Linked DNA regions of Homo sapiens. The protein of the gene in region 3 purifies or fractionates together with the protein of the main gene of each other region. This does not show direct contact. Each region holds a gene or a part of one and is shown on either strand. Other genes may lie near its edges.

Region 1 (3,349 bases), on a different chromosome or scaffold from region 3:
AGTAGACAAACAGGCTTTTATGAGGCCCAACACCCCTCAAGGCAGTTTCTCCCCCTCCAGCCTAGCTTCAGAGGAGCTGTGTCATCTCTGTGTTTGGTCTCAGCTTCCCCTGTTCCTTCTCTGCCAAGGTGCCTCGTGGTGGCCACCATCAGGGAGAAAGAAGTCCAACCAGGCCCTTCCCAGCACACGTGATCCCAGCTGCCCCCACTCTGAGCCAGGAGAAGGCCTGGGAGAGCAGGATGCTTTTTGGATTTCTGTACATTAGAATGCTGTCTGGCACTCTTTGCTCCATGTAGTTAAAAAAAAAAAATCCTACTTTCTTAAAAATTTTTATATTTTTCTTAAAAATCAAATTTTCTTAATAAAGCATAGGACCTCATTTTCACAGAAAATGGTGACTCCTCATAGACAGTGAAACATGGAAATCTCTTTTTTTTTTTTTTTTTTTTTTTTTAAGACTGAGTCTCGTTCTGTCGACCCGGCTGAAGTGCAGTGGCGCGATCTCGGCTCACGACAAGCTCCGCCTCCCGGGTTCATGCCATTCTCCTGCCTCAGCCTCCCGAGTAGCTGGGACTACAGGCACCCGCCACTGCGCCCAGCTAATATTTTTGTATTTTTAGTATAGACGGGGTTTCACCGTGGTCTCGATCTCCTGACCTCGTGATCCGCCCGGCTCAGCCTCCCAAAATGTTGGGATTACAGGCGTGAGCCCCTGCGCCCGGCTGAAACATGGAAATCTGAAATGCTGCTGGTGTGCCTTCCCTCTACAAGGGGAAGGAAGGGGTTCCCCCATGATGGAAATGCCCCACTGGGCATCCAAGTGGCAAAGTGGAGACACACTCAGGGCTGGTGGCACACACAGGCAGGAGGGCTGGCAGGCCACCTGCAGGGAGTCTGTCTGGGCCACAGGCCCAGAGCAGCCAGGACAGGCCATCACAGTGCCACCGTGCTTCCCCAGCTGCACGGGAGCTGTGGGAGGAGGGCAGGAGAGCATCTGAGGTGGCAGAAGGGGTGTGTGGGGAGTACCCCTGGCACAGACTGGTTTGGAGCCATATCACGTGGCCTTGTTCAGAATGTATATGATCTTTACCTGTCGGTTCACAACAAAAAGTAAGCACATCCCCACATACCCATACGAGGGTTCAGAAAATACATGCTACCTCGGTGTACACAGGCCACTGCCATTTCCACCTGCTGCCTAGTGGCCCAACTCCCAGCGGGGCCCAGCCAAGCAGGCTGCTCTCGTCGCCTCATGCTCCGTCCAGCCCGGGAATTATCCTGCTACCAGCGCCTGTCCTCACCAGGCTGGAGACAAGGCCACACCTGCCCTGGAGGGTGAGGAGGAGCGCTCTGCAGGCAAATACCTCTGCGGCCTCCCCGGGTCCACACTCCATGGCCTGGAAGCCACGACTTTCATTTATTCAAGGAAAAATGAGCGCTGACCTTCCAAACAGTTCCTTGATCACACTGCCTCTCACCCTGTGCTCTGTACAGGGGAGCAGGGGCCAGAGGTCTGGTCCTAGCCCCTCAGAAGGTCCCCAAAGAGGTACAGGCTGTGTCAGGTGCCAGGTGTCAACAAGGGAAACTGCTTTGCCTGACACAAGCGTCCATGGCTTCTGGCTTTGGGGCAGGGTAAAGGGAAACTGACGAAGGGGTTGAGGAGTCCAGGGCTCTGGCTGCTAGAGGGGCAGCCTGGGCAAAGTGGCCAGGAAAGATGGCCCATCTCCCAGAACTCCCTCTTGCTGGGGTCCAACTCTTCCACAGTGCGGCCCCTTCTGTCTGCTGACCTTGGAGAAACCAGGCAGCTCATTCCCTTTCCTTGGACCTGGTGCTACCCTGGGAACATTCTTAAGTCCTCCATGTAATTGGGGTGTGGAGCTTAAACATGAGGGGGACCAGCAGGAGGTCCTGGGACTGGGCTCAGGGCGGTTCACCCTGATCATTGACCCTCTGCTCTGTGGGCTTCTCTTGGCAGCTGACTTTCACGGGACGCTCGTGTGTGCCAAAAACTTCAACAAACCTTCAGCGTGGGAGCTTTTATCATCCCCATTTTACAGATGAAGAAACTGAGGCACAGTGAGATTAAGTAACTTGCCTAAAGTTACACAGCTTATCAGTGACAAGCCTAGGCTGTGAGCCTAGGTGGCCTGGCTGCAGTGAGCACACTAAAGCACTGGGTAGTGTGCATCTTGGCTCTGTCCCCATCAAGAATGCCAAAGGAGAGGCCTGCTGGTGTCCCATCCCACTTCCAGCCCTGATGCCCAAACTCAGGCAGCCTGAGGAAAGACTAGGGGATCCCTGTCCTCACCCAGCAGCAGCACCTGCTGTCCTGGTTTAGGCTGCCTGGCCTAGCTGCTCTGAATTAAATGAGCAGAAACTCCTACCTCAGCCACAGTGGGAATGGACAGCCCCCAGGGTCACCCACCCCCTCACATTGTCAGGCCTCATGTGTCACCTCCCCCTGAAAAGCAGTCTCTTACCTGGCTAAACATTTAGGTTTGGAATTATTACAAAGGTCATAAGGATAATTCATGTGAGCCATGAAAACTCAATATTATAGGAACCGAAAGGACATAGTGACAAGAACCTCCTCCTGGATGCACCACGAGAAGCTGCCCCAATCACTTCACTGTCAACGCTTCTTTCACTGGCACTTGTGCCACTGCAGCATTAAGTGATCAGCCCCAAAACATGCTGTGGAACTCGCCTGGGTCACTGCTGGGTGGCCCATCCCCTGAAGACAAGGTTCAACTTTAAACAAGGTACCTCTCTCTCCCTAAATCGGAGTGACAGGAAGCCGGATTGAGGACCCTATGGCCTGGGCACTGTCACTCCTCACCCGATACTGTCCGCCTCCCAAGTCAAGGCCCTCATGGCCAGTGTCAGGAAGCCTCATGGGGTGTGGTCAGCAGGGCTCCAGAAGTTTTATCTTCAAAGTCACATCTGCCGAGGTTCACCTGGGGGCTCATTTCTGAACCCTTTTCCTACTCTGTTACCAGCAATTTCCTGGAAGCCATGGCCCTTCTCAAGAAAGCCTTGGCCTTAAAATCACTTGTTTGCCATCGAATGTATTCTGTTGTTTCTCTAGACCAAGGGTTAGCAAACTACGGCCGGCTGCCCCTTTGTGTAAATAAGGTTTTATGGACACGCCTGCTGGCTTCCGTATGGTCTCTGGCTGCCTTCTGGGTCCAGCGACAGGTTGACAGAGGCTGTATGGTCCACAAAGCCTAAAATCTTTACTGTTTAAATTTGCTGACCCTTGCCCTCGCTCTTCCCTTACTCAAACTCTCACAAAGCACCTCCCCAACGCTGGCCTGTGCCTGGCCCAGGATGATAATACGCAGACTCG
Region 2 (3,947 bases), on a different chromosome or scaffold from region 3:
AGCCCTGGAGTAATATCAGGACACCAGGAAATTTGAGTTGATTGAGACACTATGGCTCCAGAGTTCTGCTAACAACCACCTGAAACAAACTTAGTAGGAGAAGACCAGCCTTCCAAAAAATTATTATTTTAATGGAATATAAAGAATGAACTAGGAATAGAATAGTAAGTATGTGTGAAGGCCACATACTATGAGTAGATATTAATAAAATATGTGTGCATATATATAGTATAAAGTCTAGAAATACAAACGAATATGTAGCTAAAGATATATACATGTAAGTAAATATAAGATATAAAGATATATATGCGTGTATGTATACATATAAGCATAGATGTATATAATGTCTAAAACAGGTATGTATATAAACGTAGATATAAACAAAATGTACAATACCATATATAATGTACACATACAGTGTAAAATTTATTACCATGTGAATGAGAATTAAAATATGAAAATCGCTAATCTGGACTCTGCTGTGTTCGATACCTTCAAAACACATGGCTTCTCCAAATCTCTTGCTGCTGCTCAGCCTCTTCCGTGTAAAAATAAATCTTTTAGGACAAAAGGTTTGCAAAGTCTAGCTCTGGCTGGGGAGGAGCCCCCATGGGATGGTGTGCATCTTCTCTCACAGGTCCTACAATCACAGGTGCTGCAGCCCCCCAGGGAGCATCTAGCCTGGGACCCGCAGCCATTCTCTGCAACGCGTGCAGCTGGGCAAATGCTCAAAGGTGACATAAACAGATCATCTCCCACACATCACTTCATCAAAGAGCCAGGAGCCAGGAGGAGAACCCTCCTGAGAGGGGACTGAAGGTCCAACCTCCCCACATAGAGGGGCCACAGAATCCAGCTCAGCCCTTCCTGTCAGCCCTGGAAGACCCTGGCAATGTTGTCACCCCGACCACACCCCTCCCCTCACTGCCACCTCATGTGACTGGGAGTCAGAGACTTGGTCCGAGAGGAGCAGACCCAATGGGCAGAGAATGGGGATCGAGACCCAGGCATCAAGGTCAGGACCCCCTGAGGGATGACTGAGGGCCCCTATCCCCATCCCCACCCCTACTCCGCCAGAACCCGGTTCAGCCCCTACTGGCAACCCAGGGAAGCTCCAGGCTTGGGGGCCGGATGTGACGTCACTGACGTGCGCACTGGGGGTCAGAGAGAAGGGAGAGGCCTCCTTCTGAGGGGCGGCTTGATACCGGTGGAGGTAAGCTGGCCGAGGCTCTGTGAGGAGTCAAGGTGAGGTGCTGAGGGAAGACTGAGGATGTCCCCACCCCAGATAGAGGACCCGAAAGAACCAAGTGCCGTCTCTGCTCCCAGCCCTGGACCACCCGGGGGCCGATCTGGGGCTGACTTGTGAGGCTGGGCCGACCCCCTCCCTCCGCCGCTCAAGCTGCTGGGCACTCTGGAGTGAGAGCTTGGTGTGACCAGGGCAGGGCTGGTTAGGAGAGGGCAGGGCCCAGGCTCTGCCGGGCATCAAGGCCAGGACCCTGAGGGAGGCTGGGCCCCCCCAACCCAACCATGACCTACAGCCCCAGGTTCCCCAGCCCCATCCTCAGCTCCACTCTACACCCCACCCCACCCCACCCCACCCCACCCCAAACTCCACCCCACCCCCCCAACTCTCCCGCGGCAGAATCTGGTTCCGCCCCTGTTGTCAACCCAGGGAAGCCCCAGGTGCCCGGATGTACGGCCAGTGACTCCCACACTGGGGGTCAGAGAGTAGCGGGGGCCTCGCTGTGAGGGGCGGGTCGATATCGGTGGAGGGAAGCGGGCCCAGGCTCTGTGAGGAGGCAAGGTGAGACCCTGAGGGAGGACTCAAGACCCCCCGCCCCAGATAGAGGACCCCAAATAATACAGCGCCGCCCCTGTGCCAGCCCTGGACCACCCCGCGGGGTCGGGCGTATCAGGCTGGGCCCAGGCTCTGACTGGCATCAAGGTCAGAACCCTGAGGGAGGGCTGAACGCCTCCACACCCCTAACCCAGCCACCACCACCATGACCTACAGCCTCAGGTTCCCCACCTCCATCCTCACCCCCCCCCCACTCCACCCCACCCCCAAGTCTCCCGTGGCAGAATCCGGTTCGGCTCCTGCTGTCAACCCAGGGAAGCTCCGGGTGCCCGGATGTAAGGCCTCTGACTTGCGCACTGGGGGTCAGAGAGTAGCAAGGGCTTGGTTCTGAGTGGTGGCTGAAGATCGGCAGAGGGAAGCGGGCCCAGGCTCTGTGAGGAGGCAAGATGAGACGCTGAGGGAGGACTGAGGACGCCCCCACCCCAGATAGAGGGCCCCAAATAATCCAGCAGCACCCCTGCTGCCAGCCCTGAACCACCCCGGGGGCGGACTTCTCAGGCTGTGGGCCACCCTTCGCCACCCCACCACTTAAGCCCCAGGGGACTCTGGGTCAGAGCTTGGTGTGACCAGGGCAGGACTGGTTAAGAGAGGGCAGGGGCCAGGCTCTGCCAGGCATCAGGGCCAGGACCCTGAGGGAGGGCTGAGGCCCCATAGAGGGAGTCACTGCCCCTGCAGTGGACCCTGGGAAGTTCCGGGCATGGCGGTCAGGCAAGCGGATCGTGATATCTGCATCCTGGGCTGACCGAGGGAAGGGGCTTGGTATCGTTAGCGTGGCCGCGGGAGAACAGAGGGAGGGCCCAGGTCCTGCTGGGAGACAAGGGAGGCCTGAGGGGACCCAGTACCCCAGGACAAGGGGCCCACCCCGCCCCTATCTGAGACCGAGGCCCCTCCTCATTCAGCCTCGGGAATCCGACAGATAGAGACTCAGGTCCACAGAGGGGTGGGGCCCAGCCCTCTAGGAGACCAGGGAAGGAACAAGACGGAGGACAGAGGGGACCCCGGAGTCCAGCTCAGTGGGGATCTTGGCCTGGGCGATCCCGGGCACGGTGGCCGCATGTGGTGCATTGTGGCTGGTGGGATCGGGTGTCAATGGGAACAGGGCTGTGGTATGAGGAGTGGGGCCTCAGGTGAGCAGAAGGAGGAGTCCCAGAGGCCTGAGGAAGGATTCACCAGACCTCTCATCCCAGACCTAGGAAACCTGCCCCTGCCGTCAGTCTTGGAAGGCCCCAGGCAGGACGGTGAGGAAGGGAAGTGCCCCCTCCACCCCCAACACACACTTTCTCAAAGAGGGTCTAAGGGAGAAATTGGCCTTGGTCTGCAAGACTCACCTCTGGTTCAGCAAAATGGAAGGGGCCAGATTCTGTCAGAAGCAAATATGAATACCTAGAGGACACCCAGACCGACGAGGCCCCCTGGAACCTGCTCCTTTGGTCAGCCTTGGGTATCTCATGCATGAGTGACCATGAGGTGGCCCCTCACTTCTGCCTCCCGGGTCTCCGGGAGGTGGGGGCCTTGGTCCGAGGGGTTTCCTCAGCTCAGCAGAGGGAGCCACACCTGGTCAGCACAGGGTGGAATCCAGGGTCTTCCAGGAGTGACGGGGAGGAAGTTTGGTGAGGACTGAAGGTAAGAAGGTACCTCCACGCTCTCAAAAAAGAAAGGACCTCACAGACACTGGTGTCACCTGTTCTCAGCCCCAGGTGGCCCCAGGCAGGAATGGCATGAGGCATGCTCTCATTTCTCCCACGTGACTGGGGGTGAGAGGTCTCAGGGAGGTGAGTACCTTGATCCCAGGGGGCACTGAGAGATCCAACAGAGGGCTCCACACCTGGTCAGTAGAAGGAGGACTCCCAGGATCAGCAGGACCCAAGGTGTGCCCCCTTCATGAGGAATGGAGGTACCCCCAACGCAGAAAGAAGCCACCCCACAGAGTCTAGGTGAACTCTGTTCTTAGATCTGGGGGCGGGGGGGGGCCTGATCAAGGATGGTGCTAAGTGGCAAGCTCATTTGTACCATGGCAGGAAGTTGAGGAACCCTCAGGGGGATGAGGCGTTGGTGTAAAGGGAGATGTCTGCTCATCTCAAGGGTTTGA
Region 3 (3,500 bases):
ACCATTATCAGCTGAGGATCTTTTAAAAATAAACCAATCAACTCTCTCTTAGCCCACCTCATTCCTGAGAACAAAAGGCCTGATTCTGATGGGAAGAACCACAACCCCCAGGGGACAATTTCCTTAGAGATCTGCCACTGTCCGGCAGGCCTTGCTCTCTCCAGCCTCTTCCCCGCAGCCTTGGGCCACCCCGGCACTGCAGTCCTGCTTTGGATCGCTGGGACAATGCGCTATTTGTTAAGATTCTGTCTGCGCTCTTCAAAACACTCTCTCATGAAAAGGATCATACAATGAGCAAAGAGCAGCCAGGGCAGGGTGGGGCAGGATGAAGAGAAAGAATGAACAAAACACCAGTAACACTCAGCAAGCACTTACTGAGCACCTACTGTGTGCAGGCCCCAGCTAACCCACTGCTGAGCTGCCCGGCTGGCTTCGCACAGCCAGCCCCTTCTCCTCTCCCCATGCTGGGTTAATGTTTGCTTAGTAGACAAGGTGCTTTGATCTCTGCCTGGAGTTTCAGTTACTGTAAAGAACACAGTGCCAAGGAGGGCTGGGGACAAGGCTCCCAGACTCTGCCAGTCCAGCTGCTGCAGGATAAGCCTATGCCGACTGCAAATACACTGAGACAGGAGTCGAGCCTGGGGCCATCCTAAAAACATGACTTCATGTGTTGATTTTCACTGTTGTCAGTGGATTCTCACTGGAAGCGCCCCAAGAACAGAGCACTAATCTGCCATTTTAGGTGACGGCAAGAGGACAGAGACTGGGTGATACATTGATCAGAGGTCCTGCTGTGGGCCCCAGATGCCAGTGCAGCCCAAGAGCAGGAGACGAGGTGCTTCTCTTTGCCCAGCACCTTCCTTTGGTCTCCTGACTCCTCAAGCAAAGGTGAAACCCAGATATGGCTGGAATTCAAGTCTCCTCTAACTTCCTCCTTCTTCCCAGCCCTGGAATAGGTGAAAGTGCCAAGGCTGAGGTTGCAGAAGCTGGTGGAGAGTGGAATCAGCTGGGGGGAGCTGGTCCTATCTCACAAGCAGCAACAACAAAAGCAAGGAGGGCCTTGGCAGGCGCTAGGCACATAAACAAGCAGGGTTAACTTCTTCCCTGGGCTGGAGAGAACCTATCTGTGCTTGTGACAGAGAGACAAAGAGTGCCCTTTGGCATTTGCCAGGAAAGCCTTTGGAAAAACAGGGTGTGACCCTGTTGCCACAGCAACCCAGCCACACTCTGGGGCTCACATGGTGTACAGTGTAAGAGGAGGGGCCGGGCGCGGTGGCTCACACCTGTAATCCCAGCACTTTGGGAGGCCGAGGCGGGCGGATCACAAGGTCAGGAGATCGAGATCATCCTGGCTAAAACAGTGAAACCCCATCCCTACTAAAAATACAAAAATTTAGCCAAGTGTGGTGGTGGGCGCCTGTAGTCCCAGCTACTCGGGAGGCTGAGGCAGGAGAATGGTGTGAACCCAGGAGGCGGAGCTTACAGTGAGCCGAGATTGCACCACTGCACTCCAGCCCCTCCAGCCTGGGTGACAAAGCCAGACCCCGTCTCCAAAAAAAAAAAAAAAAAAAGAGGAGGGGAGCCCCTCCTCAGTCCAGGGCTTGAAACAAGATAATTCCTAGGAAGTAACTGGCAAATAAAGGAACACATTCGGGAAAACTAGATAGAAGTGTACAACACAGAGTTTGGAAGCAATCTTTCAGTGGTCCTCTCCCTTCTGAGTCCTGGAATGAATCTAATGTGGAAGACTTGAACCCCACATTTCTGTTTCTTTTCTTTTTTTTTTTTTTAATTGAGATGGAGTCTCGCTATGTCGCCCAGACTGGAGTGCAATGGTGTTATCTCGGCTCACTGCAACCTCCACCTGCCAGGTTCAAGCAGTTCTCTTGCCTCAGCCTCCCGGGTAGCTTGGACTATAGGCAAGTACCACCATGCCTGGCTAATTTTTTTTTTTTTTTTGGATTTTTAGTAGAAATGGGGTTTCACCACGCTGGCCAGGCTGCTTTTGAACTCCCAACCTCGTGATCTGCCCGCCTCAGCCTCCCCAAGTGCTGGGATGACAGGCATGAGCCACTGCGACCAGCTGAGCCCCACATTTCTTGTAAGCAGACAGAGCCTCAAGCCAGTAAAGCGATGTGTCCACAGTCTCTTGGAAGCAGCGCTGGGTCTGTGGCTGCTGCCTGGGTCTGATGGGTGTGTTCTCAGAGGCAGCCGCACTTAGGACTTGAGAAGCCAGCTGTCAGCGTGACTTGCCCTGGTGCGTGCCCAAGTCAGAAAACACCCAGAGTACCCACAGCTGCCAGGGAGGGATCTGTGCAGGAACAGCTAGTTGGACGGGCTTATGGGATGGCAGGGAGTGAGCGAGCTGGGGGGCCCCAGGGGACGGTGGAGTATCTCCAGCTCCTGAGTGACAGAGAGAACCCACGTGCACTGCCACACCAGCACCACTGCTCCAGGCTCAGCCGTGGGCATCTGCGAGGCCCTGGAGGGCACAGACAGGGTGTGCATGCTCGGCTCTGTCAAGGGGCTGCAGTGCTGCAGATGCCTGTGGTTTGGCTTCTCTGCTCTCCTGCTTGTTCTCTAAAAGCTGGGGCTGTCTACATGCATGGACACACTTCCCATACCTGGTAAGCAACCTGAGTCCTGACACCAGAGTGGACAAAAGCTTAGGTAGAGGGGCTGACAGGCACTGCATCATGAATGGAAGCCACTGTCCTTCAACTAATTACGTCTTCAGTAAGAGGAACTAAACTAGCTACTCGTCAATGAGGAATGGTGAGTAATCAAAACGATGCCGCTTAAAGATCCATTTGTGTCCTCATGGGTGAATCAGTAAACAAACTGTGGTGTATCCCTACAGTGAAATATTACTTGGCTACAAAAAGAAACTCTGGACATGCCCAACTACATGGATGAGTCTTGCAAGCACCGTGCTGAGTGAAAGAAGCCAGACAAAAACACTAGTTCCCTTTCTATCCCTGGTTCTTAACTAGGGGTGATTCTGCCCCAAGGGGACATTTGGCAATGTCTGGAGACATTGATCACTGTCACATCTGGGGAAGGGAGAGTGCCTCTGGCACGTAGTGGGTAGAGACCAAGGACACTGCTAAACACCCTGCAAAGCACAGGACAGCCCCACAACAAAGACTCATCCAGCCCTAAGTGTCAGTAGGGCCAGGGTGGGGAGATCCTGATTTATAGGAAATTCTAAAGAAAGGCAAAGCTATAGTGAGGAGAGTGTAGATCACAGCTTGCCTGAGGCTGAGGGAGGGAATCACCTGTAACACGGTCGGGGCACAAGGGAACATTTCGGAGTGATGGGTGCGTTCTGTATCACAATTGTGGTGGGGCTAACACAACTATACACATTTGTCAAAATTCATAAAATGGCACACGTAAAATTGGCAAGTCTTACTCTATGTAAATTATACCTCAATAAAGCTATTTCCAAAAAGTGGCACAGGGAGAAAAAGTGACAAGTTGGCTCTGGAAGCAACTGG

The links. The genes of interacting proteins can lie anywhere in the genome.
Region 1: the proteins of SAP30BP (region 3) and POC1A purify together in Homo sapiens (affinity purification with mass spectrometry; one large-scale study listed by BioGRID and IntAct). This does not show direct contact.
Region 2: the proteins of SAP30BP (region 3) and MAGEA9B purify together in Homo sapiens (affinity purification with mass spectrometry, with the first as the bait; one large-scale study listed by BioGRID). This does not show direct contact.

What each region holds. Positions count from the first base shown.
Region 1 is NC_000003.12:52,078,075-52,081,423, forward strand, and holds part of POC1A (POC1 centriolar protein homolog A), read right to left. Parts: intron 1-3,349.
Region 2 is NC_000023.11:149,584,660-149,588,606, reverse strand, and holds the start of MAGEA9B (melanoma-associated antigen 9), read left to right. Parts: upstream 1-1,147; 5' UTR 1,148-1,213; exon of another isoform or gene 1,214-1,245; intron 1,246-1,701; exon of another isoform or gene 1,702-1,804; intron 1,805-3,947. UniProt on the Homo sapiens protein: Not known, though may play a role in embryonal development and tumor transformation or aspects of tumor progression.
Region 3 is NC_000017.11:75,694,838-75,698,337, reverse strand, and holds part of SAP30BP (SAP30-binding protein), read right to left. Parts: intron 1-3,500. UniProt on the Homo sapiens protein: Plays a role in transcriptional repression by promoting histone deacetylase activity, leading to deacetylation of histone H3.